4 linked regions of the Homo sapiens genome follow. The protein of the gene in region 2 interacts with the protein of the main gene of each other region in a pairwise test. Each region holds a gene or a part of one and is shown on either strand. Other genes may lie near its edges. The genes, in order: PSMA1, PCBD1, NTAQ1 and FXR2.

What was found.
Region 1: the proteins of PCBD1 (region 2) and PSMA1 interact in binary tests that used the Homo sapiens proteins (3 or more experiments, as listed by UniProt).
Region 3: the proteins of PCBD1 (region 2) and NTAQ1 interact in binary tests that used the Homo sapiens proteins (3 or more experiments, as listed by UniProt).
Region 4: the proteins of PCBD1 (region 2) and FXR2 interact in binary tests that used the Homo sapiens proteins (3 or more experiments, as listed by UniProt).

What each region holds. Positions count from the first base shown.
Region 1 is NC_000011.10:14,510,387-14,517,407, forward strand, and holds part of PSMA1 (proteasome subunit alpha type-1), read right to left. Parts: intron 4,106-7,021; coding exon 4,017-4,105; coding exon of another isoform or gene 3,967-4,016; exon of another isoform or gene 3,524-3,966; intron 3,502-3,523; coding exon 3,431-3,501; intron 3,314-3,430; coding exon 3,184-3,313; intron 566-3,183; coding exon 486-565; intron 1-485. UniProt on the Homo sapiens protein: Component of the 20S core proteasome complex involved in the proteolytic degradation of most intracellular proteins. This complex plays numerous essential roles within the cell by associating with different regulatory particles.
Region 2 is NC_000010.11:70,885,548-70,893,381, forward strand, and holds the start of PCBD1 (pterin-4-alpha-carbinolamine dehydratase), read right to left. Parts: upstream 3,019-7,834; 5' UTR 2,987-3,018; coding exon 2,984-2,986; intron 2,335-2,983; exon of another isoform or gene 2,306-2,334; intron 383-2,305; coding exon 251-382; intron 1-250. UniProt on the Homo sapiens protein: Involved in tetrahydrobiopterin biosynthesis. Seems to both prevent the formation of 7-pterins and accelerate the formation of quinonoid-BH2. Coactivator for HNF1A-dependent transcription.
Region 3 is NC_000008.11:123,433,756-123,440,776, forward strand, and holds part of NTAQ1 (protein N-terminal glutamine amidohydrolase), read left to right. Parts: intron 1-1,686; exon of another isoform or gene 1,687-1,757; coding exon of another isoform or gene 1,758-1,787; intron 1,788-2,697; coding exon 2,698-2,846; intron 2,847-3,454; coding exon 3,455-3,579; intron 3,580-4,378; coding exon of another isoform or gene 4,379-4,461; exon of another isoform or gene 4,462-4,574; intron 4,575-7,021. UniProt on the Homo sapiens protein: Mediates the side-chain deamidation of N-terminal glutamine residues to glutamate, an important step in N-end rule pathway of protein degradation.
Region 4 is NC_000017.11:7,611,896-7,619,467, forward strand, and holds the start of FXR2 (RNA-binding protein FXR2), read right to left. Parts: upstream 3,003-7,572; 5' UTR 2,638-3,002; coding exon 2,557-2,637; intron 2,217-2,556; exon of another isoform or gene 2,169-2,216; intron 1-2,168. UniProt on the Homo sapiens protein: mRNA-binding protein that acts as a regulator of mRNAs translation and/or stability, and which is required for adult hippocampal neurogenesis. Specifically binds to AU-rich elements (AREs) in the 3'-UTR of target mRNAs.

The sequences.
Region 1 (7,021 bases), on a different chromosome or scaffold from region 2:
TCCAATTGGTCATTCTTTCTCCTTTTAACGCTTTTTTATTTTTTACATAGCATTTATCTTCTTCTAATATACTATATAATGTACTTATGTATATACTGTCTATCTTTCCCTACTAGGATGTACGTTCCATGAAGAAAAAGTTATTTGTTGTGTTTACTGTATTTTCAATGCTTAGAAAGTGCCTGCACATGGTAGGTGCTCAATATATATATATTTTTGTTAACTAAATAATACCAAGATATGCCAATCTGCTGAAAATAATGAAGGACATTTTGCATGAAATTTACTGGTTTTACTGCTTTGTACCAAAAAGAAATGTTTAAAAAATAAAATTGGATTACTTAGCAAATAGCTTAAAGGAAAAGAATCTGCCAAGACAATCATATCCCAAATTACAGAATGTTGCATATATACTCCATTACATTTATGCAATAAAGGTTTAAACTGTAACGTTAATATCTACAATTGGAAAAGACAATACTTACCTTTGTAGTCAGGTCCTGTTCTGCAGGAAGCGTCTCTCTTAAGGCACGCAGACCATGTTTAACTAGTTCATTTAAATTACCTATATGTAATAAATTAACAATTATTTCTTAATTTCATTGTTATGCTAGGCTTCTGTTATTTATCAAATCTACAGTCTCAAATTGTGGTTTTTAGTTACACACTAAATTTATCACAGTAAAAACAGCCAAGTTTAATGCTAGTCATATAATCTTTTAATAGCATTCTATGACATTGCTGATTCTTATTTTATTTAATGAGAGGACTCATGATTTTTGTTACGATTTTGATCTTCTCTTTTGCTAGGTCAAATCAAAATCCCGACTATAAATTATACAACTCCAAGTTTTGTAGAATGTGTTCTGTAGAATCCTAGTCCTTATATTTGCTCATTGTAAAAAGGAATCTCCAACTTATTCTATGTGGCCAGTATTACCGATAACAAGAATAAAAACATCACAAGAAAATAAAACTACAGACCCAATATAGATGCAAAAACAAAACAAAACAAAACAAAACCCTCAACAAAAACTACAAACGGAACCTGGCAACACATTAAAAAAATTATATACCATATACAAGTGAGATTTATCCCAAGAATAAGTTAGTTTAACAACTGAAAGTCAGTGTAATTTTCAGTTACACTGAAGGAAGGGAGAAAACCTGCATAACCACCCCAAGAGATGCATAAAAAGCACGTGATAAAACCTAAAATGTTTGCATAATAAAAACACAAAACAAACTAGTAATTGAAAGGAACCTCTTCAGTCTGATAGAGGGCATCTACAAAAAGCTGACAGGTAACATCAATCTTAGCAGTGAATGACTAAAACCTTTTCCCTTAAGTTTAGGAACAAAAAAAAGAAGGTTTGTTCATGCAACTTATATTCATCATTGTACCAGAGGTTCCAGCCACGGCAGTTAGAAAGGAGAAAGTAAAACTATCTCTATTCCCAGACAACATGATCTTAGGAATCTATAAAAAAATGACTAGAACTAATAAACAAGTTCAGCAAGATTGCAGGATATAAGATTGATATATAAAAATCAACTGTATTTCTATATAGTTGCAATGAATAATATGCAATGAAATTAAGAAAACAATTCTGTTCACAACAGCACCAAAAATAATAAAATACTTTAAGACAAATATGATTTGTACACTGAAAACTACAAAACATCAGTGAAAGAATTAAATACCTGGTTGGGTGTGGTGGCTCACGCCTGTAATCCCAGCACTTTGGGAGGCCCAGTTGGGCGGATCGCCTGAGGTCGGGAGTTTGAGACCAGCCTGACCAACATGGAGAAACCCCGTCTCTACTAAAAATACAAAATTAGCCAGGCGTGGTGGCGCATGCCTGCAATCCCAGCTACTCAGGAGGCTGAGGCAGGAGAATTGCTTGAACCTGGGAGGCAGAGGTTGCAATAAGCCGAGATCGCGCCATTGCACTCCAGCCTGGGCAAAAACAGTGAAACCCCGTCTCAGGAAAAAAAAAAAAAGAATTAAATACCTAAATAAATGAAGATATTCCATGTTCATGGATCAGATGCTTTGTATCATCAAAGTAGCAGTACTCCCCAAAATTATCTATAGATTTATTGCAATCTTTAGGAATTTCCTATCCAGGTTGAAATGTGCTAGGCAGAGGGTGCTGATATGAGCAGTTCTGAACCAAACTTTGGACACTGAGTTTCTAATGAGCTTCTCTGGGCAGAAACATCACATACATATTGCTGCAAGTGTACTCTGTGACTCCTTATGGGAAGGAAAGAGCATAAGGAAGCCTGCACATAGATTCCTCTGGACTGTATTTTTCCTTAATGATCCACCTATGTACTGTTATTTTATTGTTAAAAGTCTTACCTGGGAGTACAACTATATGCTGTGCGCTTTAAGTCCTAGCATATCTCCAAATTTAGGGGTAACCTTGGGGACCCCAAACCATTTACCATAATTTACAATGTTAAACTTTAAGCCAGCATTTACCAAGCTTATTTGTCCAAGGAATCCTCTTTTCCCAAAGTTAAACCTATTGTCATCCCACAAGTTTGCTTTGAGTAATGTCAATTAAACTATTTTTCTCTGCATTCACTAAACCCCAAATATTTCCTCCAAAGAATGCTTTGTCACCAGAAAACAGATAAGATGACAAAGAGAAATGTAAAACCCGATACCCTCCTTCCAATGCAAAGCAAAGCACTTGAAAACCTGTCCTGTCATAACATCTTACCTCTTTTACCTTCTTCTCCCTCAACTACACTGCCTTTTTATTTCTTGTTTATGGACTACTAATGCAGAAATGTCTGTGTGGCTTAAAATAACAAAAGACTCACAGAAAACTAAAAGTGAACAGAGCTTACAACTGGCAGGTAGTACAGTGGTTCTCCACTCTCCACTCCACAGGGCACACTTCTGACCAAATGAATCAAGAATTTTCAAGGTTGGGAACACATTTATATTTTGAAAAAGTTCTACTCGTGCTTGAAACTACTGTGGTAACCAGAAGTTAAGATTAGTATATGTGACAGAAACAATAAACTCTTCATGGGCATAATTTTTTTTAAAAAAATTCTTTCTATAAGACTTACAGTTTTATGCATTTAGGATACTATGTTTATTTACTATATAGACTGGAAAAGGCAAAAAAAAAAAAAAAAAAAAGCAAGGCTGTCACTTACACTCCATAAATTCAGACATATGTCTCTCCAAGTAAGTACGAGCTGATTGGGAACGGGCTCCAATGGACATGGCTCTGCAGTCAAAATAGTTAGCAGATGGACAGGTTTGGAAAATGTGAGGGCCCATATCCTACAAATAGAAATAAATACACCACATAATTATTTACTTTGGTTGAACTAAAAATTATAAAAATTTCTAGTTAATTAAAAAAAATCATTAACATATAACAATATTCAATGAACTTACATCATAACCAGCAATAAGGAGACCAACACCATATGGTCTCCGGCCATATCGTTGTGTTGGTATCTGGGTCTCTTAGACTGGTTAACGAGCTTGTTTTAACAAGGAATGAAGTACTGTCTTTATTTTCAAATTATACATTATTAACAAAGGTCTCTGGCTTATTCTTTAATTGTTGCATAATCCACCAGAGAAATAATGCAATAGGACACTATTTCTTTGGCCTAATATAAAATGTTTGACTTTCTACCGAACCTAAGAAAGAGTGCCAGCAAAATAATTTCTTCCCATCTAAAACCTGATTTGTTTTGGATACAAGGGGTCTAGGATTTCTTGGGACATCTAGAACCATTAAGAAACTTTAAATCCCCTCTAAAAAGATGCTTAGATGATTTTCCTGAAGTTGGGCTTATTTGTGTCTAGCAAATATAAATTGCTTATAAAGGCTAATGAAAGAGCAATCCAATTTGTTGTTTTAAAGTTTTCACAATCTTACCTATGTCATATTATTATTATATTCCTAATAATTAACACAAGTATCAAAACCCTTCAAAGTTCATATCCATAAATGCTAACATAAAAAGGATACTGCTTCCAATTAGAGATACAAGACGAGACACAGGCAGTGGTCTATCGAATACAAATCTGGAATCCAAACACTCCTGACGCATAAAATTACTAAAAAAGAAACAAAAAAAGTTTAGTAATTTCAAATTATAGACAACTATTCCAATCTAAATTGTTTGATTTCACTTCAAATTCTTCCAAGCGTTTACATGGATAACATCCATATAAGAAAAACAGAAGGTAAGAAAGACATGCCTGCAAGGGTGCGTTTTTGTGCTAAACTCTGGAGCCACATAAGGTTTTTAAAAAAGACTGAAACATTTTTTAGCTCTAGAAAATCTTTGTATCAGAGCACTTATGGAACAGAGAAGAGAAGGCTGAACAAAAGAAAAACAGCAACCTCTCTTCTCTTATCCTTCCCACTGTCAGCAAGCTTGTCGTAATTCTAGATCTCGAACCAGCAAAAAGATTATCTACTCTGTCCTTTTTTCTTGAAAGCAGACTAACATTTCTCCAAAAGAGCAAATATAAGAAATGGAAAACACAGCAGGGGGGATCTTTACGTGTTTCTGCCACTGTTACTTCTATTCATAAGAAGCACTCTAGAGGAGATACTGGACACTAGCCGCTGAGTCTCACTGTTAAATCTGATGAAATTCAAGCAAGGTTAACATTGGGGAGAAGAGAATTTATGCCTATAAATAAGATAAACAAGAAATGGATATGCTCCTTTTTCTCAATGTTGCTTTGTCCAGTATATGCGTATGTCACATCTGATCATCACATGGTTGACTACAGGAACCAAGCTATTTGTTCAGTACTTATATTTAAGTCCATTTCCCAATGCTGCCTAAAAGTATACTGCCCAATATGGCAGGCAATAATCACATGTGGCTATGGAGCTCTTGAAAAGTAGCTAGACTGAATTGAGATGTACACCAAGTACAAAATAACATACCAAATTTCAAAGACTTAGTACCTAAAAACGTGCAATAACTCATTAATAAAGTTTTTATATTGATTATGTGTTGGCATGGCAATATTTTATAGATTGGGTTAAATAAAATGTTTGATAATATAATACATTTTCCATTTTGAAGAGTAGGTGGAAACCCTTAAGGCTGTCATTATATTGCTGACTTAGAGCAAGGGACTGGCTGAGTAAATTGAAATTCTTTTTTTTTTTTTTTAATACTGAGTTTCGCTCTTGTTGCCCAGGCTGGAGTGCAATGGCATGATCTCAGCTCACTGCAACCTCTGCCTCCTGGGTTCAAGCGATTCTCTTGCCTCAGCCTCCCAAGTAGCTGGGATTACAGGTGCCTGCCACCACGTTCAGCTAATTTTTTTATTTTTAGTAGAGACAGGGTTTCACCATGTTGGCCAGGCTGGTCTTGAACTCCGGACCTCAGGTGATCCACCCGCTTCAGCCTCCCAGAGTGCTGGGATTACAGGCATGAGACACCATGCTCAGCCTGAAATTCTTAAACCATAGCATTACTATTTACACTGTTTTTGCTGCTGCTGTTGTTTTAAGAATAGGGTCTCACTCGGCTAGGTGCTGTGGCTCACGCCTGTAATCCCAGCACTTTGGGAGGCCGAGGCAGGTGGATCACGAGGTCAGGAGCTCTAGACCAGCCTGGCCAATATGGTGAAACCTCGTCTCTACTAAAAATGCAAAAATTAGCCGGGTGTGGTGGCACATGCTTGTAGTCCCAGCTACTCGGGAGGCTGAGGCAGAAGAATTCCTTGAACTCTGGAGGCGGAGGTTGCAGTGAGCCGAGATCATACCACTGCACTCTAGCCTGGGCGACAGCGCGAGACTCCGTCTCAAAAAAAAAAAAAAGAATAGGGTCTCACTCTGTTGCCTACGCTAGAGTACAGTGGCACTATCATAGCTCACTGCAACCTTGAAATCCTAGGCTCAAGCAATCCTCCCACCTCAGCCTTTTGAGTAGCTAGGACAACAGGTGTGTGCCACCACACCCAGCTAAGTTTTAAAATTTTTTGTAGAGATGGGGATTCACTATGTTGCCCTGGTCTCAAATTCTTGACCTTAAGCTTCTCAAAGAGCTAGAATTATAGGTAGGAGCCACTGTGCCAGGCCCACCCTTATAATTTATATTCTTTCTTTCCTAATCAAATCACAAATTTACAAGATTAGTTTTAGCTAACTACCTGCCATCCACAACACACATACTCACATAATACCTGAAAGGCTCTGTGTTAGTGGTTTACAGTAGGCAATTTAAAATATTTAAAAATAGGCTGGGTGCAGTGGCTCACACCTATAATCCCAGCACTTTGGGAGGCTGAGGTGGGCAGATTACCTGAGGTCAGGAGTTCAAGACTAGCCTGGCCAACATGGCGAAACCCCGTCTCTACTAAAAATACAAAAATTAGCCAGGCGTGGTGGCGGGTGCCTGTAATCCCAGCTACTCGGGAGGCTGAGGCAGGAGAATCGCTTGAACCTGGGAGGTAGAGGTTGCAGTGAGCTGAGATCACACCACTGCACTCCAGCCTGGGTGAGAGTGAGACTCCATCTCAAAAAAATAAATAAATAACATTTAAAAATAGCCTTGATAAAGAAAACACTGGAAAAAATTCAGTGTTTAGGTATTTAGCCAAATCTCAGATACTAAGTGGTGAAGGTGAGAACTCAATATGTGCAATTTCAAAGCCCTATCTCTTCATTTATGTATTGCCTTTTAACCATAAATAATCTGTCTCTTCTAGACTCTCACAGAAATTTTTCTGTTATATTATAGATAAACTACATTTGAGTTTATAGATAAACTTGCCTTCAAGTTCCCTTAAGACAAGATCCATGTCTGAGTCACTTATGTATACCCTGCAGTATCCAGTATTGAGCATTGCAAAAAATAAATGTCTAATAAATACTGATGTATTGAAGAAAACAAGCACAAAGAAAACAAGTGTGGTTCAGCTTGTCCTTAGAAACCAGACAAAAGTATCACGTTCTTCTTAGACATAACAGGGTCTCAAACGATATACATTGTATTAACAAAC
Region 2 (7,834 bases):
AAGACTGCTGCTAAAAGTTCCAGGAAGGGAGAGCCCAAGACACATCCTCCTATGGCTCTCCAATCCCCAAAGATGATACTTTCTGAGTTAGACAGGAAAATTAATTTCCCCACTGGCACAGTGCCCAAATAACTGGATGAGTGTGGTGTCTGAGAGTCTTGGCTAACAAGACGTGAAGGGAGAGAACATGCTTTGTAAGGTGACCCCATCAGCCCGTCTCAGAAAACTCTGTCCCACCCTGGTGCCATACCCTGTTGAAGTCTTTGAAATGAAACTGCTTGAAGATGGCATCACGGCCTTCCAGCTCATTCCACCCCACAGCCCTCAGGTTTGGCAGCAGCTGGTCCCTCTCCTCAGCGCTCAGCCTGTGTGCTTTGCCAGCCTAGAAGAGGGAAAAAAACAGAGGCCCAAGGGCATTTCTCTTTATAGGTCAAAACAGAGGGGCTCCAACCTTTAGGGGAACTTAGCTTCCACTGGCTGCTTTGGACGTGGGTGACCAAAGGGCAGCAGGTCTTTGAGCAATAGGCTGGGAGGCCTCAAGGGTGGCACCCTGCCCAGGAGGTGGGGTCCAGGCTCGTCTGCCGATAGGCCCTCAGGTCTTGGGTTTTAACACTCCACACACACACAAGGGAAATCACAAAAGCAATGTAATTCATATGACGGGGACAGAGAAGCACTCTTCCCCCACCCTGCCCTCAAAGCCTTACGGACCTTCCCTCCATGAGATTATTACATCAGTGAGGGCGTAAAAGCAAAATAAATCCCAGATGCAAATATGTTACTCCACAACCTCTCAGGAAGAGTACCCATGACTCTCCCCCCTTCCTTTTCCTATTATGTACTTCATCATATGCACCCCACGTCCCTACCGTAACTTTCACGTGTATTGAAGAGGAAACAGGCCTAGAGAGGGGAAACGACTTGTCTGCTGTTCTTTCCCGCCCACCCCTAGCCAGTGATGGCGCAGTGTTGTCTGTGTGTCAGCATTGCTGGGGCTGGACGAAGGAGCTACATTTAAAATAAGTGTCCATCCCATTCTTAGCCACACTGCAGCTGACCGCCGTTGGCACTACCTCTAGTAGGTCCTCAGTCATGCTCCCAGGCAGCCTCTGGTCCTGAGCCGCCAGGGCTAGGTTTCTCTGGTTTTCCGTCTGCTTTTCTGGCTGGTTGGGAAGCTCAGGCCAAAGTGGAAGGAACTTGGCCAAAGGCAGCTGGCAAACCTAGTGCCCCATCCTATTTACCTAATGTGCGAAGTGCCCTCAAGGCAGCCCAAATTGGCACAATTCAGGCCATGAGTGGAACCTCAGAGAAAGCAAGGAAGCAAGGGTCAGTTTCATCCTAGGAGGATCCAGGTCTAGGAGCTTAACAGATCCCAGAACCTAGGCTTCTAGAGTAGCACCACCCCAGGGCAGAAATAGAGTGCTGAATTGAAAAGATACCCTTAGGGGTGGGGAGGGAATGTGAGGGAGGTTGATTTAGCTTTTATGAGGCAGCCTGCAGACTGGACACCATGTGTTGATTGGCAGGAGTTTTGAGACCCGCTTTCACCATTTACCAGCCAGGTGGCTGTACCTCTCTTGGCAGAACCTCCACCTCCACAGATCATCATGAGGTGCCAATGGGACACTTTAGGAAACTCCACTGCTATAAAGCAAATGTCATCTGCATTACAAAAAAAAAACTTCCTAAGGCAAGCAGGCTTGTGATGGGCCTGGTAGCATTTGGGGTAGCTGAAGCATCGCAGTGCTTTCCTAAGTCCGTCTTTTTTCCCTGCTGTTTTCCCTCCTGAAAACGTGAGCTCTCTCTGGACTGATGTAGCTTGGCCCCTCTCTTCCCCTCGGCTCTGGATGACTATAGGGATTGAATGGCAGCAGCGATTTGCATCATCTGCCCAGTAGGTAGGTCTCTACTCCAGAGCTGGCCTTCTCCCCGTGGCTGACCGCCTGGTCCGTGTATCTAGACAACCAGAAGTCAGCCAAAGCATCAGAGCCCACTGTTTACTTCCTTGGCTCTTAAAGGGGTGGGTGAGTCCAGGTGAGCTCTTAGGAGGCTTCCCTTTCTCGGTAGAGCCTTCTGGAACCCCCCAGGTCGCACAGCCTGCGGCTGAACTGACAAACCTTCCAGGTGCCGGCTCTGGAGACAGAGAGGGGGACGCTGCCCCGTTTGCCTCCTCTGGCGAGGTGTGGGGAGTGGTTACCGATTTCCCAAGCCTGCATCTCTGGGACCTCAGCGCCCCTCACAAACAGCCCCACTCATCCTCCCTCCCCCAAGTCCCTCTCCTATCAAAAGGCCCTCCCAGTCTTGCCTGCTCCGAAGGCCTGTGGACCAGAAATGGTCTGATGAAGCTCGCGAGCTTACAGCAGAGCAAGGGCCCCGCCCCCGCCCCCGCCCCGGGGGTGGGTGGGGGAAGCTCACGGGAGGAGGGCTGCTCCAGCGCCACCAAGCCCCCGTGGCCTGGCACGGGCCTCAAGCCGGCGCGGGGAGTGGCTCTGGGGCCAGCATACCGGCGCAGAGCGTGAGTCCCAGGCAGACCCCGTACCCAGAGTGCCAGCGGGAAGGGGCAGCGGACAGGCACGCACACGAGCGCGCAAACTCAGCCTCCCTCTCGCTCCCACCCCAGTATAAAGCAGAATCGGGCCACCAAGGGGACGAGATCCGTGGACTCCTCCACGACTGTCTTCCCCGGCCCAGGAAGGTCGTAGGCCCCGCCCCCGGAAGGGTCCCGGAACAAGCACTGGCCGGGGTCAGGGCAGGCCTGGCCTCCCAACTGGGTGGGATTCGAACCCGCCACCGCCCCTCTCAGGGCTTCAGCTTCCCCTCCCCGCCGCCAGCGACAGAGAGCCGGGCAGAGACCCCACTTTCGGACCCCGGCGGCTCCGCAGGGGACTCGAAAAGACTTTCCCCCGCCCCTTCCCGCTCCCACCTCGCCCGCGGCTGCCCCGGCCCCGCTGCCCCGATCGCGGCCGCGCACCCCTGGACTCACCATGGCGCGGGCGGCAGCAGGTGGCCAGCGGAGAGGGCAGGCGGCGGCCGGGCGCGCAGGCTGCCGTCCCGGGGCGGGGCCGCGCTCGGGCCGCCCTCCGGTAATGATTAACGTCCCCAGCCAGGGACGCGCTCGGCCTGCTTGCTTCCAGCACTTTCCTCGCTGCTCAGAGCCATCCTCCGTGCTTGTTTCAGGGAGCTAGGGTGAAGCATGAGGGCTCCAAATGCCCGCTTCTGGGTTGGAATCCCACCCCGCCGCTTACAGCTGGGTGGCCCTGGGCGCCAGAATACCTATTTTTTTCTTTATAAAAATCTCTTATTTGGATATAATTGACATGCAATAAATTGCACATATTCAACGTGTACAATTTGATAAATTTTAATGTTTCCCTCGTGAGACCATCACCGAGATCAACATTATGAACATATCATCATCCCTGCAAGTTTTCCCTTGCCCTTTGGTAACCCCTTCCTCCCGAAACCACCTGGCCAGGCAAGCACTGATGTACTTTAGGTCACTATAAATTAGTTTGCATTTTCTAGAATTTTATGTAAATGGACCATAGAGTATATACTAGGCAGGATAACTGTTTTGGGGTTCAGCCATGTTGTTGCCTATATCAATGGTTTCTTCCTTTTATGGCTAAGTAAAATTTATTTTATAGTATTGCATTGTACAGATAGACTACAATTTGTTTAGCGATTCACTATTGGACATTTGCGTTGTTTACCTTTTGGCTATTACAAATAAAGCTGCTGCGAATATGGTGCACAAATCTTCGAAAGTACGTATGTTTTAATTTTCCTTGAGTAAACACTTAGGAATGGAATGCCTGGGTCATGTGGTAGGTGGACTTTTATAACTTATTAGGAAACTGCCATACTGTTTTGCAAAATGGTTGTATCATTTTATATTCCTAGCAGCAGTGTATGAAGGTTGCAGTTCTCTGTCCTCACCAACACTTGATATAGTCAGCCTTTTAAATTTTAATTGGTGTGTAGCAGTATCTCATTGTGGTTTTGAGTTTCCTTGATTAGTAATTGTATTGAATGTCTTTTCATGTACTTATTTGCTAAGGATAAGTTTTTTTTATTGAATAGCATGTTTGAATTTCCTGCCCATTAAAAAAGAAATTGGGTTGTCTTCTTATCGAGTTTTGAGGGTGTTTTATTCTGGATATAAGGACATGATCAGGCAGTGATTTGCAAATATTTTCTTTGCATTATCTTATGGTGCCTTTCAAAGAGCAAACGTTCTTAATTTTGATGAAATCCAATATATCAAATGTTTCTTTTATGGATTTCTATTTTGATGTTGTACACATAGAAATCTTGGCCTAACCCAAGATCAAAAGTTTTCTCCTATGTTTTATAGCTTTTGGTTTTACATTTAGTCTGTGATCCACTTTGAGTAAATATTTTTATATGCTTCAAGTTATAGATCCAGATGCACTTTTGCACATGGCGACTCAGTTATTCCTTTCTCCACTGAGTTGTCTTTGCACCTTTGTAAAATATCAATTGACTGTATACATGTGGGTTTATTTCTGAGCCCTTTCTTCTGTTCCATTGATCTGTTTGTCTGTCATGACAGAACACTACCTTGTCTTGATTATTATAGCTTTATAATAAGTCTTAGAGTCAGATTAGAAAAGTCCTCTCACATTTCACATTTTTCTATTAACTTTTATTCTTGTGCTCCACTTTTATTCCCCGCCCCCCACCACCGCCCATAGCAGCCTCTCTAATGTGTTAATGTGTATTTTTGTTTGCACAGGTTCTTGCAAAATGTGTGGTGTTGTTTCGTCTATGTGTATTTTTAAATTTATGTAAATGGTATTATGTAAATATATTACATTTCTCAGTCTGTTTCTTACAAAACAGAGTATTTAGTGGAAAATTAAGATCTACCCATGTTGCTATATGTATATTCAATCTGTAGCTTTTAACTGCAGCCTAGTATTTTGTAATGAGAATCTGCCATGGGTTTCTTGTTCTATCAGTGATGGACACTCAGGTTCCCTTCAACTTTCTGCTGCTACCACCACCTCCCAAGCCCGTGAGCATGTGGGCACACAAACACATACGTACACAGAGTTAAACAACAATGCTGCTGCAGTGAACATCTCTAATTGCTCCCTGGGCTGTGGGCAGTTTCTTAGGCAACTTAAGTATATCCATACCCTATAAATCCAGCAATTCCCCCCATGGGTGTGTATCTCAAAATAGTTCTAGATGATGTCCAGGATGGGGACACCAGTCCTCATTCTCTCCTGCATGGTGTGAGGGGGTACTATTTCCATATGCATCTTACACATACATACTCACACTTCCCATTAGCCAGCTTTTTATTTTTTTGTCAGGCTAATAGCTATAAAATGAGAGCTTGTTGTGATGCAGGATTTTTCTTGACCCCTTTGCTGAGGTTGCAGCAGGGAGTGCCTTATCTACTCAGCTTGCCAGGCCCCATCTGGCTTGTGTTACAGCCCATGGCTCACAAGGCCACTGCGACTGTATGCTCAGCCCCTGGCGGGAGGGAGCATGTGACCGAGTGAATGCAGGGTCCAGCCAGCTGCACTGAGCCATGACACAGGAACAGGCTCTGTGTGGGGCCCACAGCCAGATCAGGTGTGTCACCCCAAGGAGACTGTGGCAGCACCCAGGCAGGGGTGCCTGAAGCCCCAGAGAGGGGTGTTACAGTGTGCTAAATAGCTCTTTTATCTCCACCATCTGCAGCCTGATGGACAGCGGCATGTTGGCAGCTCAGGCGGCCCCTTTCTCCACTCTGGCCCGTGGCTCCTGGACCAGCTTGGCCCTGCTGCAGCTTCTGTTCTGTGGGGCAGCTGCCCTCCACCAGTGAGGGTAGAGGGCCAGCGTTACAGCCTTTGTGGGTGCCCACATTTGGTGGGTCCTGAGCTCTTGTTCTGCATCCAAGAAGAATGAGGTCATGCTGACAGTTGAAGGGTGATGAGGATGGAGAATTTTATTGACGATGAAACAGCTCTCAGTGGAGAGGGATTGAGAAGGTGGGGTTGTCTATCTCAGTGTGGCTGAGTCTAGGGGGTTTTATAGGCACAGGATTGGGGAGGGGCGGGCTGTAGGTAGTATTAGAAAAGGCAACATTTGATTGGTTAAAAAGCATTATTCAGAAAGAACCAATCAGGAAAGGGTGGGCAAACAGGAACAGAAGTTCTCACCCTGGTTTGAGGGGTTTCATCCCAAACCAGCAGTCCAGGCTGTTTTTGGCTTGAAGGTGGGGTTTCACTGGGGACCCACCCCCATCTGCCTAGGAAATTGTCTGCCTCCTGCCGCTTTCAATTGTTTTACTCTACATTGTTTTCTGATGACTAATGATTTTGAGAACCTCTTCATATGCTTGTTACCATTTGGGGGTTACTATTTGTGAATTGCTTTTTAATATCCTTTGCCAATTTTTGAGAATTTTTAGTGCTCTCTTTTTTTAGTTGGTTTGTGGGTGTTTATATAAAATCTAGACATTAATTGCTTGTCAGTTTTGATATTGCAAATATCTCCTCTCATTCTGCCATCTGTATACTGACTTCTTGCATGAGATCCATGATGTCTGTGGGCAGAAATCTTATATTTTGGTGTAATAAGATTTATCTTTTTTCCCTCTGCCTTATAATTTTGTGCATTTGAAAATTTATTTGATAAGTCCTCTCCCCACCCTGCTACAAAAATATACTCCCTTTTCTTTTGTTAACTTTATAGTTAGATAGATTTAAGACCTAAATGTGAAAGGTCCCTTTTGGTATGTAGTGTTAGGCAGGATGTTAGTCTCCAAAGATAGCCCCCAATGAACCATGACTCCCAATATTCACACCCTGCATAGTTCTCACCCATGTTGAATCTGGGATGGCCCAGTATGACCAGTCAAATATGGCAGAAATGTCACCATGTGACTTTGTTTTGATACAGTGTCTTGCTCTGTCGCCCAGGCTGGAGTGCAGTGGTGCAATCATAGCTCATTGCAGCCTTGACCTCCTGGGCTCAAGTGATCCTCCTGCCTCAGCTCCCCCAGGTAGTCACCATGCCTGGATAATGTTTTAAATTTTTTACAGAGACAGGACATTTCTATGTTGCCAGGCTGGTCTCAAATTCTTGGGCTCAAATGTTGGGCCTTGGCCTCCCAAGTGTGGGATTCCAGGTGTGAGCCACCACATCCAGCTATAACTTCTAAGACTAAGCCAAAGAAACTCTGGGAACTGTTAATCATTCTCCAGCCACGTGAGTGAGACTCTTGGATGCTCAGACCTGCCAAACCTTCAGATGACTTCAGCCCCAGGAGACATCTGACTTCAATCCCACGTGAGGCCCCAAGTGAGACCAGTCAACCCGTGGAAGCATGAGAAATCATAATTTTTGTTTTAAGCCACTCAGCATGATGATTTGTTCTGCAGCAATAGGAACAAATGGCAGGAACAAAATTTGGTGCCTGAAAGTGGAATGTTGCTATAAAAGCAACCTAAAATGTGTAGCGTTAGGTTGAGAATGGGTGGTGAGAGACGGTGGAAGGAAAGACTTAAGGACAGCAAGAAGTATTCACCTTCCATCCAGGAGGCAGAAAGCCTTGCTATCATACTTAACAATGAGAAAAGACTGCATGCACTACAAAGTCATCACTTTTCTTGAGCTCACCAGGGAGGTGAGCTCACAGGGCAACCAAGTATCCTGAATTCCAAGGGGGCAGGTCCCTCCAAGGAGAGGCAGGATGTGCAGTCTGGCTCACTTGGGCAGTGCTTGGAGGAAGGGGCAGCCTCCATTAAAGTGGGTAAGAAGAAAGAAATCAGTTCAGTTTTAACAAATTGTTGGAAGCCAGGTGTGGGCTGGC
Region 3 (7,021 bases), on a different chromosome or scaffold from region 2:
TCTTTTAAAAGGGTTGATCATTTACACACTAATGCTTCTAGCAGCACTATGAGGTAGACCAAGCTTGTCTAACCTGCAGCCTATGGGCTGCATGTGGCCCAAGACAGCTTTAAATGCAGCCCAACACAAATTTGTAAACTTTCTTAAAACATTATGAAATTTTTTTGTGATTTTTTTTTTTTTTAGCTTATCAGCAATCGTTAGTGTTAGTGTATTTTATGTGTGGCCCAAGACAATTCTTCTTCCAGTGTGGCCCAGGGAAGCCAAAAGATTGGACACCCTGGAGTTAGATACTCCAGTTATCTCCATTTTATAAAAGAGCAGAGTGAGGTTGCCGAGGGGAGGGGCTGAGATTGGAACCAGGCGCTTACCTGCTCCTGCCTGCATTGCTCTCCTGCCTGCATTGCTCTCCTGCCTCTGATGTTCTCTGTTCTCCACAATATCCTGCAGCAGTTTACCTGGTTCCCATTCACTTCTCTGGGAACTTCTTGAGGGTGAGAACTTATCTTTTTCATCTTTGCATCTGCAGTTCAGCAGCACAGTCTTTCACATAGAATAGATAATGTGTGGTTCAAAAAAACTGATATGGGACTGGGCACAGTGGCTCACACCCATAATCCCAGCACTTTGGGAGGCAGAGGCAGGGAGATCACTTGAGGCCAGGAGTTCGAGACCAGCCTGGTCAACATGGTGAAACCCCATCTCTACTAAAAATACAAAAATTAGCTGGGTGTGGTGGCGCGCCTGTAATCCCAGCTACTCGGGAGGCTGAGGTGGGAAAATCACTCGAACCCCGGAGGTGGAGGTTGCAGTGAGCTGGGATTGTGCCACTGTGCTCCAGCCTGGGTGACAGAGAGAGACTCTGTCTCAAAACAACAACAACAACAAACCTGTAATATGAATTAGAAGATGTTAAGAGAGAAACAGAATTTGGATAAGGCGGAGATTCTGGCAGGGGGTGGGAGAAGATAAAAAATTGATTCGTGGGAAGAAAGCCTTTAGCTGGAGCTTGTGTGGTAGAAAGAGGTAGAGAAGGTTGCTGCAGATGGAGGGGAATGACATGAGCAGACCCATTGGGAGGCAGTGGTGGACTGTTTGGGGGCGTGGAGGATAGGATGTATCTGGGGAAGTCCAGAGAATAGGCATTCATTTTTGAATCTTTCTGTTTTGCTAAGACAGACTTAGAGCCAAAGGCAGCACTCAGGCTTTTAAAGGCACAGCATCCCTAGTCTTAAGTATTGTTCTTACCTCAGGATTTATACAGGGCTCAAGTAGAATGATATTTGAGAAAGAAAGTGCCTTTTAAACTCTAAGATATTGTAGAAATATAAGTTGGTATTACTAATGTTGCTAGGTTGCTTTGATTTCACAGTGCTGTTCTCTATGAGAGCGTTTTTCTTTGGAAGAACTCAGAGCACCACATTGCTCATGTCCCTTGATCACCTCCCTGAAATCCCTTTCAGCTCATCGCTGGTGTTGGGCAGTACCTTGAGTCTGAGAGTGAGGGTGAGAATTAACATCCACACTGTGACAGAGCTGTGTGGGAAAAGCTGTCTTTTTCTTTCTCCCTTAGTGGCTACAGATGAAAGCTTGGCTAACTTCTTTTTTTAAAAAATAGTTTTTCCTTTCTTTTAATTGCAAAAGTGGTTCCAAACTAGAAATTAAAGTCCTCCTTCTCCTCTCCAGGCTGACCCCCAGAAGCCTCCTTTGTTACTAGTTTGGAGCAGATCCTTGCAGACGTTTTCCTCTGCATTCACATGCATGCAAATGTACTTCTGAATGCGCACGTATGTCTTTATATACAGATAGCTTTTAACAAATAGCAGGTGGGGCCGGCACTGTGGCTCACACCTGTAATTCCAGGACTTTGGGAGGCTGAGGCGGGGGGATCACTTGAGGCCAGAAGTTGGAGACCAGCCTGGCCAACATGGTGAAACACCATCTCTACTAAAAATACAAAAATTAGCTGGGCGTGGTGGCGGGTGTCTGTAGTCCCAGCTACTCAGGAGGCTGAGGCAGGAGAATCGCTTGAACCCAGGAGGCGGAGGTTGCAGTGAGCTGAGATTATGCCACTGCACGCCAGCCTGGGTGATAGAGCAAGACTCTGTCTCAATTAAAAAAAATATGTGGGGCCAGGCACCGTGGCTCACACCTGTAATCCTAGCACTTTTGGAGACTGAGGCGGGTGGATCGCCTGAGGTCAGGGGTTCAAGACCAGCCTTGCCAGCATGATGAAACCCTATCTCTACTAAAAATACAAAAAATTAGCTGGGCATCGTGGTGCGCGCTTGTAATCCCAGCTACTCGGGAGGCTGAGGCAAGAGAATTGCTTGAACCCGGCAGGTGGAGGTTGCAGTGAGCTGAGATCATGCCACTGCACTCCAACCTGGGTGACGAGAGTAAGACTCCATCTCAAAAAAAAAAAAAAAAAAAAAGTTTCCTAGAGGTAAAATTGCAGTTTCAGAGGATGTGCATTTAATGACTATGAACATTTCCATTATTTAACCATTTCCCTATCTGTGGACATTTAGTCTGTTTTCATGTTTTCAGGGTGTTGTGTTTGCTTTATTCTATTTTGCTATTATAAGGAGGGCTGTAGCAGTCCTATATCCTTTTTAGTGATAAGGTATGTGTCTGAATACTGGGATTTCATCATTATGAAGTAACTTGGTTAACTTCAGCAACTTTTACTTTTAGGATTACCATGTTGTTTTGCTTCATGTTTCAAGTGGAGGACAGAACTTCATTTATGATCTCGATACTGTCTTGCCATTTCCCTGCCTCTTTGACACTTATGTAGAAGATGCCTTTAAGTCTGATGATGACATTCACCCACAGTTTAGGAGGTGAGGACATTCAAGATGGATTTACTTATTTTCTGAAGTAAGAATTTGACGATTCCACAGAGGTTCTTTTTTTTTTTGACAATTGTTTTGTAAAGATCTCGTCTGACATCACCATTGAGTTGATGTTTAAGAATGATGTATTTGCAACACAGGAGATTCAAAATGTTTTAAAGCTTTAAAAGTTATCTATCATATGAAAGGTTGTCATTCTTTTAAAATTTTGTGTGATGAGATCTCAGACATTTAATTTCAAGCGGGTTGGGGATTTTTCTTATATTCTTTTTGTTTTTGTGGGGATACCTCGTGCTGTCACCATTGAGAGGGCTGTGAGGGCAGCATCAGAAAATCATGCCCATTGCCCTTGATACACAAATCGAGTAAATCGAGGCAACCAGATATATTTTTGTGCCTTTGCCTTTCTGTTTCGGGGTTTGGTTGATCATTTCCTATGCTTCTCTAATAGGTAGTAAAGTTGCCTGTATTACTAACCATACAGAAATGCATGAGTAGTTTTGTGCATGTCATAGGAAATGAGTCGATATAAAAATGGAGTTAGAATTTCAAACATGACATCTCCCTAATGTGAGTGTATATTGATTTTTCTGCAGGAAATTTAGAGTGATCCGTGCAGATTCATATTTGAAGAACTTTGCTTCTGACCGATCTCACATGAAAGACTCCAGTGGGAATTGGAGAGAGCCTCCGCCGCCATATCCCTGCATTGAGACTGGAGGTGAGCCAAGATGCCTTCTCAGATGGGGGTTCTGATTGATCACATACACATCAGCATTTTTCCTTAACGGAGGACAAAAGTCAGGTTGTTCTTTGAATAAAACTCCATGAGTGAATCCCAGCACTTTGGGAGGCCGAGGTGGGCGGATCACGAGGTCAGGAGATAGACACCATCCTGGCTAACACGGTGAAACCCTGTCTCTACTAAAAATACAAAAAATTAGCCAGGTGTGGTGACAGGCACCTGTAGTCCCAGCTACTAGGGAGGCTGAGGCAGGAGAATGGTGCGAACCTGGGAGGCAGAGCTTGCAGTGAGCTGAGATCGGGCCACTGCATTCCAGCCTGGGTGACAGAGTGAGACTCCATCTCAAAAAAAAAAAAAAACAAAAAACAAAAAACAAAAAATTCCATGAATGATAAGGAGGTCATAGGAAATACTACTTCTGTGTGTGTATTAGATTCAGAAATGAAGGCACAGAGAATAGGACTGGAAGGCATAAGAACATGTGGGAGAGGAAGGGTGTTAAGGATCAGAACCAGGGCACCTGCAAACTGCTGGATTATTGGATGTAGCTACTGCGGGGACACTGAACATCAGGATACTCGCATGCTTGTGTCATTTAACAGCGGGACTAGTAGCACCTTGCCATGGTAGGGTTTTGTGCTGTGGTGAAAGAAATCCCCATTGCATCCTTATGATGTGTGAAATGTCACTTTGGCTATATAATAAAATCTGCATTAGAGGGAGGTGAGCGCTAGCAGGTTTTATTGTACCACTTGTCTCATTTATGTGCTTTTAGGCATCAATCCAGTTGATAATTTCCTGACATTTAAGAAGATAAAGGGTCCTTCACCCTATTACTATTGTTTGGCATTCATATGAGTTTGAAGTATTATTTACGTTTGTAAGTAATTCACAACATTCCCACTTAGGGGTGAGATCATCCCAACACCTGGATAATACAGTCTGTGTGAAAGTGCTCTGTGAGCTCTGCAGCATGTCAGAAAAATAGGGCAGTAGTGTTAGTACTTCAACAAGGGTCTGAGCGTGGTGGCTTATGCCTGTAATCCCAGCACTTTGGGAGGCTGAGGTGGGTGGACCACCTGAGGTCAGGAGTTCGAGACTAGCCTGACCAATGTGGTGAAACTCCGTCTCTACTAAAAATACAAAAATTAGCCGGGTGTGGTGGTGTGTGCCTGAAGTCCCAGCTCCTTGGGAGACTGAGACAGGAGAATTACTTGAACCGGGTAATTGCTTGAACCGGGAGGCAGAGGTTGCAGTGAGCCGAGATCGCACCACTGCACTCCAGCCTGAGTGACAAGAGCAAGATTCCATCTCAAAAAAAAAAAAAGAAAAAGAAAAAAATAGTTTAACGGAAGAAAGTAAAATATACATTTGGCATATTTGAGGGGACTGAACACTAAGAGAGGGTTCAAACTCTGATTTTTGAGGCTCTCTATGAAAAGCTCTCATAATTTAAAAAATTATATTGGAATTGCTTATCAGTACACAGAGCTGCTTCCTGGCCTCAGTGTGAGAACTGGGGAAGCTCCCTGGTAAGGAGAGGGCTCGAGGGGTCTGCCTTAGCATCTATGGCAACCTGCTCTACAGGGCCTGGTCTGGCCACAGTGTGCCTTTAGCAGCTACCTGTTTCCCCTTGAGATGTGAGCACCTAAGACAGAACCTAGTGCATCGCAGGCATTTAGTGAACCCCTTGTCAGCCCTGGTCCAACTGGGGCAATTCCTTTTGTTTTGATGACTACTAGTCATTGGATGCTGTTTTGTGCTGGGCTTTTGCCAGCCCAATTACTATATGGGCTGCCGAGGTGAGCACTGCCAGCCCAATTTTCTTTCTTTCTTTTTTTTTTGTTGAGACTCTTGTTGCCCAGGCTGGAGTGCAGTGGCACGATCCCAGCTCACTGCAACCTCCATCTCCTGAGTTCAAGCAATTTTCATGCCTCAGCCTCTGGATTAGTTGGGATTACAGGCATACACCATCACACCTGGCTAGTTTTTTTTTTTTTTTGAGACGGAGTCTCACTCTGTCACCCACGCTGGAGTGCAGTGGTGCGATGTCAGCTCACTGCAAGCTCCGCCTCCCGGGTTCATGCCATTCTCCTGCCTCAGCCTCCTGAGTAGCTGGGACTACAGGCGCCCGCCACCACACCCGGCTAATTTTTTTTTTGTATTTTTAGTAGAGATGGGGTCTTACCGTGTTAGCCAGGATGGTCTCGATCTCCTGACCTCGTGATCTGCCCGCCTCGGCCTCCCAAAGTGCTGGGATTACAGGCGTGAGCCACCGCGCCGGCCACACCTGGTTAGTTTTTATATTTTTAGTAGACATGAGGTTTTGCCATGTGGGCTAGGCTGGTCTTGAACTCTTGGCCTCAGGTGATCCTTCTGCCTTGGCCTCCCAAAGTGCTGGGATTACAGGGGTGAGCCACTGTGCCTGGCCCATATTAACCAAAAATTAGCCAGGCGTGGTGGTGCACGCCTGTAATCCCAGCTACTCAGGAGGCTGAGGCAGGAGAATTGCTTGAATCTGGGAGGTGGAGGTCGCAATGAGCCAAAATTGCACCACTGCACTCTAGCCTGGGTGACAGAGGGAGACTCTGTCTCAAAAAAAAGAAAACAGACTTTAAATTAATGCATGTTTTAGATACATGCATTATTGGGTATGTTGGATTTAGTTATGGAATTGACTCTTTTTTTTTTTTAATCAAGGTAGGGTCTCAGTATATTGCTCCTACCTTGGCCTCCCAAAATACTGAGATTATAGGCATGAGCCACCACGCTGGCCAGGATTAACTCCTTTTTTTTTTTTTTTTTTTTTTTTTTTGAGACGGAGTCTTGCTCTATTGCCCAGGCTGGAGTGCAGTGGCACAATCTTGGCTTGCTACAACCTCTGCCTCCTGGATTCAAGCGATTCTCCTGCCTCAGCCTCCCAAGTAGCTTGGATTCTAGGCACCCACTACCACACCTGGCTAGTTTTTGTATTTTTAGTAGAGACGGGGTTTCACCACGTTGGCCAGGCTGGTCTCGAACTCCTGACCTCAAGTGATCCACCCCTCTTAGCTTCCCAAAGTGCTGGGATTATAGGCGTGAGCCACCACGCCTGGCTGCTTTTCGTCTTTCTGAGTAAAGGTTGAGAGTAGCGTTCCTTTCTTCTTTTTTTTTTTTTTTTAGACAAAGCCTTGCTCTGTTGCCCAGGCTGGAGTGAAGTGGCGTGATCTTGGCTCATTACACCCTCCAACTCCCAGGTTCAAGCAATTCTCCTGTCTCAGCCTCCTAAGTAGCTGGAATTAGAGAGGTGTGCCACCATACCCAGCTAATTTTTGTATTTTTAGTAGAGATGGGGTTTCACCATGTTGGCCAGGCTGTTCTCTTAACTTCTGACCTCAAGTGATCTGCCCACCTCGGCCTCCCAAAGTGCTGGGATTAC
Region 4 (7,572 bases), on a different chromosome or scaffold from region 2:
GTTTTTAACTCAGGAACAGGGCAGAAAATGCTAACCTGCCCAGATCCACATTACCACATTACCTGGCTTTCAGCTCAACCCCAAACTCTACTCTCTGAATCACAGTATCCTGGTCCCCATCTATTCAAGTCTATCACTGCCACAGCACACAGGAGAAAGGGAAAAGATTCAGAGAGACTTTCTGCTGGACACTTATATGTGGGACAGAAAACGTGTCCCTTCCCAGCCATCTCATACAGTTCATTTGAACTGGATACCAATCTTTCTCAGCTGTGCAGGGCTCCTACGCTTCCTAGAACAAAGCAAACATCATATCTTGATCTTGGACTCAACTTAAGAATCACTTTTCTTGGAACTCAGAATTTGGGGGTGGTAAGGACCCAGATGAAGGAAAAGATACCAAGGTAAACAGGGAGGGCCACTTTAGGAAGCTATTTCAACAAAGGTAATGCAAGTTTGGGGAAAAGGATATGAGAGACAAATGTGCTCTATCAAAAGCAGAAAGGAATTAGAGACTTTTGCCAAAGAAAACAGAAATGCTATGGAGGCAGGCTAGAAGAAAAAGTCCCAAGAGTTAGGCAAGTATGCACAAAATGACAAAAAGAGATCAGCAGGGAGCTTCCTTCAGCTAGACAGGGAATAAGGTGATTCCTGGGGATTACACAGGAATACAGAAATATTAGGAGAAAAAGCTAAAAACTTGAATTGAGAAGGTAAGTTAGACATGGGTACCCACAGTCACCGCAGAGAAATAAATCTGATGAGGGAAGTAAGGCAAAAATGGGTAAGTATGAAGAGTGAGTAAAAAATGACTACAATGGCCGGGCGCGGTGGCTCACGCCTGTAATCCCAGCACTTTGGGAGGCCGAAGCAGGTGGATCACTAGGTCAGGAGATCGAGACCATCCTGGCTAACACAGTGAAACCCCGTCTCTACTAAAAATACAAAAAAATAGCCGGGCATGGTGGTGGGCACCTGTAGTCCCAGCTACTCGGGAGGCTGAGGCAGGAGAATGGCGCGAACCAGGGAGGCGGAGCTTGCAGTGAGCCAAGATCGCACCACTGCACTCCAAGCCTGGGCAACAGGGCGAGACTCCATCTCAAAAAAAAAAAAAAAAAAAAAAAAAATGACTACAATGCACTTAGCAACTGAAGTACAGGCAGAAACCACCCAAGAGAAATTACAAGACCCTCTGCAGTTATAGAAAAATATGACTTAGAGAAGGAGTCAAAGAAAGACATTTCCAAGGGCATGAGAAACTAGAGAGGACTACAGTGGGGGAAAAAGGCCTGAGGGGAACTGAAGGAAAGGGGGAAGGGGGATCCACTCTTAACAAGTGATGCCATGGGAAGGTATCTCTTCCCCAGCTCCCCAGGGTGAAATCAAAGAATGAGACAGAAATCAGGAGAGTCTCTAGGACAATTCCAGGCATCAAATCCAAGAGGTTCAGAATACCAACAGTCACACAAAGAAAAACTCTTGGGAGGCAAGAAAGGGCTCTCTCTGGCTTAATCTAAATGGGAAAAAAATGTCCTAGAAAATAGATTCAGAGCAGATAAGGAAGGTGGTATTATAAGGAGTTCTAAGGAACCAAATCCTGGGCAAAGGGGGAGGTGAAATAAGGAAGGGTCTTTGAAAGATGATCCCGTCTTCCAAAAAAGGTTGTCAGATTCCCGAACTGGGATAGTTGGCCAAGAGTCTTCAAGAAGTGGAAATCTTAAGATAAACAGAAGGGAACCTCATAAGCTTCCTTTCAGAGATCCTTTTAGAGATTATGACTATGAAGCTTACATGCCTCAAGACGAAGAAACTATATGAATGACCTGAAGGTATCTGAGGTCTAAGTGAGACCTCAAATCCATTCCTGAGTAGAATGGTAGAGCAGTGGGTCTTGAGATCAAGGTGTGGTGGGGAGAGAGACTTGCGAAAGATGCCACCTTATGGCTGGCTGGGAAGCAACTTGACTGATCCAACCCAGGGTTCCTGAGGTCAAAGATGCCAAACGTCGTAAATGGATCTGACCATTTCTCCTTGGCTTGGGAACCGGAATATAAGATGAAAGTGGGGTGAGTGTTCCAGAGCCAGTAGGCAGAGGCCTCTCTGAGGAAGATGAAAGGATCTTTTACGGGACAGAGGGCCTTCCCAAAGGGACCGTGTGGAAGAAAGACAATTCTCCATGTGCTTGGATCGTGGGGAAGATGTGATTAAGGTCTAAGGTATGTCTTCCACCAGACAACGGACACAGTCAATTAGAAGCTGGGTAAAGGGGTCTCTCCTGCGGAGCGGGGAGCGCCAAGCCAGGGACAATAATGGCCTGAAGTTCATTCTCCCGGAGATGGGGGTAGAAGCAGGTGCAGGTGCCTTAGAGGGGTCAAAAATAAGAGGAACAGGGTTCACTCTAAGCGGTCTCCCAGGGAAGGCTGCGGGTTGGAGCAAGGGTCCAAGATTCTAAGGGCCAGGACTCAGCTCCAGAAGCTCGATCCCGCCCCACGCGTTCCTGCTCCGGCCAGGGGAGGGGGCTAAGGACCGGCGTCCCCAGTCGGCGCGCCGTCTCACCTTGTAGAAGGCCCCGTTGGAGCCGCGCACCTCGACGGGCAGTCCCGGCTCCACATCCCCCCCAGAGGCCAGGCCGCCCATGGCGCCGCCACCGCCTCCGACTCCCCCGGCGGCGGCTGCAGCAGCAGTCTGAGTGCGGGCCGGGCCAGGCCCCCGGCGTCTCCCCGGAGGAGGAGCCGGAGGGGGAGCCGCGGGGGGCGGGAGCCGGGCCGGCCCCACGGCGGCCCTGCCACAGCCAACGAGCAGGGGGCCGGGGCCGGGCCGCTCCCCGTCCGCCGCCGCCGCCTTGGTCTCCGCCACCGTGAGGGAAACGGCCGCCGCCGCCGCTGCCTTCGTCACCTCAGCTTCCGCCCGCCGCCGCCCCCGCTGCTGCCTCAGTCCCGGGACCCGCTGCTGCCGCTGCCGCTCCACAGCCTCCACCTCCCCCTGCCACCGCCGCCTACTGCGCAGGCGCACCGGGCACCCGCCCGCTGCGCGCGGGGCCCCGAGGGCCACCGCGCAGGCGTCAAGGTTAGAGCCCCAGCTAGCGCCAGCTAGCGCATCGGGGCTTCCACATTCCCTTTCACTCTCTCACTCCCCCTCCTGGTCGCTTGCTAGCGCTTGCGCAGAACAAGATTAGCCTTCTTTCTTCACCGCTCCACCGCCCAGCCACCCCGTCTCTTCCTTTCCCCGCCCCACAACACTGAGAACCAACCAATCAGGGGGAGGGAGGGGCCGGGCTCGCTCAGTCCGATTGGGCGGCGTCCGCACAGTCACACAGCGCTCAGGCCACACCCACTCCGCCGCCGCTGGCCCCACCGGGCTTGGACAAGTTAGGGATGGGCATGCGCCTGAACGACTGCTTGGTCACTTTCCCCACCTTTGTCTTTCTTGGTGCGCACGCTCCAAAAAGAAAAAAAAAAGAAGAGGAGTCGCCGCAAGGAAAAAGGTGCTTGGTGCGCACGCGCTGAGCTTTACCCTCTTCGCGTATGCATCGCCGATATTTTAAGAATCTGTAACTCTCTACTGTAGTAGATTTAACAGTCATGGCTCTTACCTTGAAGAGATTGTGATACAATGAAAGTTTTGGCCGGGCGCGGTGGCTCACGCCTGTAATCCCAGCGCTCTGGGAGGCCGAGGCAGGTGGATCACCTGAGGTCCTCGGATCACCTGAGGTCAGGGGTTCGAGACCAGCGTGGCCAAAATGGTGAAACCCACCCCCCCCCCCACCCCGCATCTAATAAAATACAAAAATTAGCCGGGCGTGGTGACACGCGCCTGTAATCCCAGATACTCGGGAGGCTGAGGCAGGAGACTACCTTGAACCTGGGAGGCAGAAGTTGCAGTGAGCCAAGATCGCACCATTGCACTCCAGCCTGGGCGACAGAGCAAGACTCAGTCTCAAAAAAAAAAAAAAAAGAAAGAAAGAATAGAAAGAAAGCTTTAAGAATAGTTTCAGACGGGCGCTGTGGCTCACTCCTGTAATCCCAGCACTTTAGGAGGCTCAGGCGGTGGATCACTTGAGCCCAAAAGTTTGACACCAGCCTCAACAGGGCGAAACCCTGTTTCTACTAAAAATACAAAAATTAGGACGGGCGCGGTGGCTCAGGCCTGTAATCCCAGCACTTTGGGAGGCCGAGATCACGGGCGGGCGGATCACGAGGTCAGGAGATGGAGACCATTCTGGCCAACATGGTGAAACCTCGTCTCTACTAAAATACAAAAAATTAGCCGTGGTAGTTCCAGCTACTCGGAAGGAGTCCCAGCTACTCAGGAGGCTGAGGCAGGAGAATCGCTTGAACCTAGGAAGGTGGAGGTTGCAGTGAGTGGATATCATGCCACCACACTCCAGCCTGGGCAATGAGTGAAATTTCTTCTTTAAAAATAATAATAATGGCAGGGCGCGGTGGCTCATGCCTATAATCCCAACACTTTGGGAGGCCGAGACGGGCGGATCACGAGGTCAGGAGATCGAGACCATCCTGGCTAACACGGTGAAACCCCATCTCAACTAAAAATACAAAAAAAAAAAAAAAAAAAAAAAATTAGCTGGGCGTGGTGGCGGGCGCCTGTAGTCCCAGCTACTCGGGAGGCTGAGGCAGGAGAATGGCGTGAACCCAGGAGGCGGAGGTTGCAGTGAGCGGAGATCGTGCCACTGCACTCCAGCTGGGGCGACAGAGCGAGACTCCATCTCAACAACAACAACAACAAATAATAATAATAGTGGCCCGGCGCGGTGGCTCACGCCTGTAATCCCAGCACTTTGGGAGGCCAAGATGGGTGGATCACAAGGTCAGGAGTTCAAGACCAGCCTGGCCAACATGGTGAAACCCCATCTCTACTAAAAATACAAAAATTAGCTGGGCATGGTGGTGCATGCCTGTAAACCCAGCTACTTGGGAGGCTGAGGCAAGAGAATTGCTTGAACCTGGGAGGCAGAGGTTGCAGTGAGCCCAGATTGTGCCATTGCACTCCAGCCTGGGCAAAAAGAGCGACACTCTGTCTCAAAAAATAGTAATAATAATAATAAATAATGCTGGGGAAATTCAAAATAGGAAAAACTGTCATGAAATAAGGGTAGTAGCAGGAAAACTTCACATTCTGGGAGTTGTCCTATGTTCCATCCACTTCTTGGATTAGAGTAAATGGTAATGCCAATCATGGAAGAGATAACATAGGAGATAAAGGTTTAGAAAATAAGGTGATGAATTTACTTTTATTTTTTTTTTGCCCTTTGAGCTTAGCCACCACATCTGGCTAATTTTTAAATTTTTGTATTTAATGGTGGAGACAAACAGACTTGGAAGTCTCTGACTTCATAGTGTGATGGCAGAAGAAAGACACTGGAAAAATTATTAATATTTATAATAATTATTAATATTGCAACCATGGCCAGGCACAGGGCTCATGCCTGTAATCCCAGCACTTTGGGAGGCTGAGGCGGGTGGATCACCTGAGGTCACCTGAGGTCAGGAGTTCAAGACCAGTCTGGTGAAATTCCATCTCTACTAAAAATACAAAAATTAGCTGGGCATGGTGGCACGCGCTTGTAGTCCCAGCTACTCGGGAGACTGAGGCAGGAGAATCGCTTGCACCCAGGAGGCAGAGGTTGCAGTGAGCCAAGATTGTGCCACTGCACTCCAGCCTGGGTGACAGAGCGAGACTCCATCTCAAAAAATTAAAATAAAAAACAAAAATAAATAAAGGCGATAGAAGAAAGGAAAATAAAGTATAAGAAAATTAAAGGATTAGTCCATGGGATACAACATCTGAATAACCAGAATTCCAGAAAGTGATAACAGAAATAATTATCTGGAAAGGATAAAATCATCTAAAATCAATAGTAATAATTATTCAACAAAATTTTCCAAGGCCAGGTGTGGTGGCTCATGCCTGTAATCCTGGCACTTTGCGAGGCTGAAGCAGGCAGATCACTTGAGCTCGGGCGTTCAGGAGCAGCCTGGGCAACATGGCGAAACCCTTTCTCTACCAAAACTACAAAAATTAGCTGGGTGCGGCGGCTCACGCCTGTAATCCCAGCACTTTGGGATGCCGAGGTGGGTGGATCATCTGAGGTCAGGAGTTTGAGACCAGCCTGGCCAACATGGTGAAACCCCATCTCTACTAAAAATATAAAAATTAGCCACACGTGGTAGCGTGTGCCTGTAATCCCAACTACTCAGGAAGCTGAGGGAGGAGAATCTCTTGAACTTGGGAGGCTGAAGTTGCAGTGAGCCGAGATCACACCACTGCACTACATACAGCCTGGGTGACAGAGAAAGATTCTGTCTCAAAAAAAAAAATTATTTCCAACCTCGTTTCCTATACCTAGCCACACTCTCAATATTTTTTTGTTGTTGAGATAGAGTCTTACTCTGCCACTCAGACTGGAGTGCAGTGGTATGATCTCGGCTCACTGCAACCTCTGCCTCCCAGGTTCCAGTGATTCTCTTGCCTCAGCCTCCTGAGTAGCTGTGATTATAGGTGCCCACTGCCACAGCTGGCTAGGTTTGTTTTTTTTGTTTTTGTTTTTGTTTTTGTTTTTTTTGTATTTTTAGTAAAGACGGGGTTTCACCACGTTGGCCAGGCTGGTCTCAAACTCCTCACCTCAGGTGGGTCACCCACCTCGGCTGCCCAAAGTGTTGGGATTATAGGCATGAGCCACTGCGCCCGGCCCACACTCTCAATTAAGTGCAGTAATAGAACAGACATTTTCAGGCTTTTAAGTTCCCAACAAATTTACCTCCCGGTACTCTTTCTCAAAAAGCTCCATCAAAATAAGAAGAGTAAACATAGAAAGAGGAAACACAGGTTCCAGGAAACAGGACGTCAACACAAGAGAGAGGCAAAGGGGATCCCCAGGATAAAGGTGAAGGGAGATCCCAATTGCGCAGCCTCAAGATCGCCTCTCTGGACTGGAGCAGGTCTAAGAGCTTTTTGAGAAAGTTCTTCAAAATGACGTAGATTGAAATCCCTAAGTGTTTGTATATCCTTATAAGAGATTAATTAAGGGAGAATTTGGGGATAAATTAGAGTACACAGGAAACTAAGCAAACAGAGAGGACAAGGCAGTTATTAATTCCAGGGAAAACAAAAATGGTACAGGAAAGAAAAAGAATTGTAACTATCCACATGGATCATACGTGTATTCGTATAATCATAATAATCATAATAATGAGGCCAGGCATGGTGGCTCACACCTGTAATCCCAGCATTTTGGGAGGCCGAGGTGGGCAGATCACCTGAGGTCAGGAGTTCAAGACCAGCCTGACCAACATGGAGAAACTCCATCTCTACTAAAAATACAAAATTAGCCAGGTGTGGTGGCACATGCCTGTAATCCCAGCTACTCGGGAGGCTGAAGCAGGAGAATTGCTTGAACCTAGCAGGCAGAGGTTGCAGTGAGCCAAGATCGCGCCATTGCACTCCAGCCTGGGCATTAAGGGTGAAACTCCATCTCAAAAAAAAAAAAAAATCATAATAATGTAAATGCTAAGGCTGGTGCGGTGGCTCATGCCTGTAATCCCAGCACTTTGG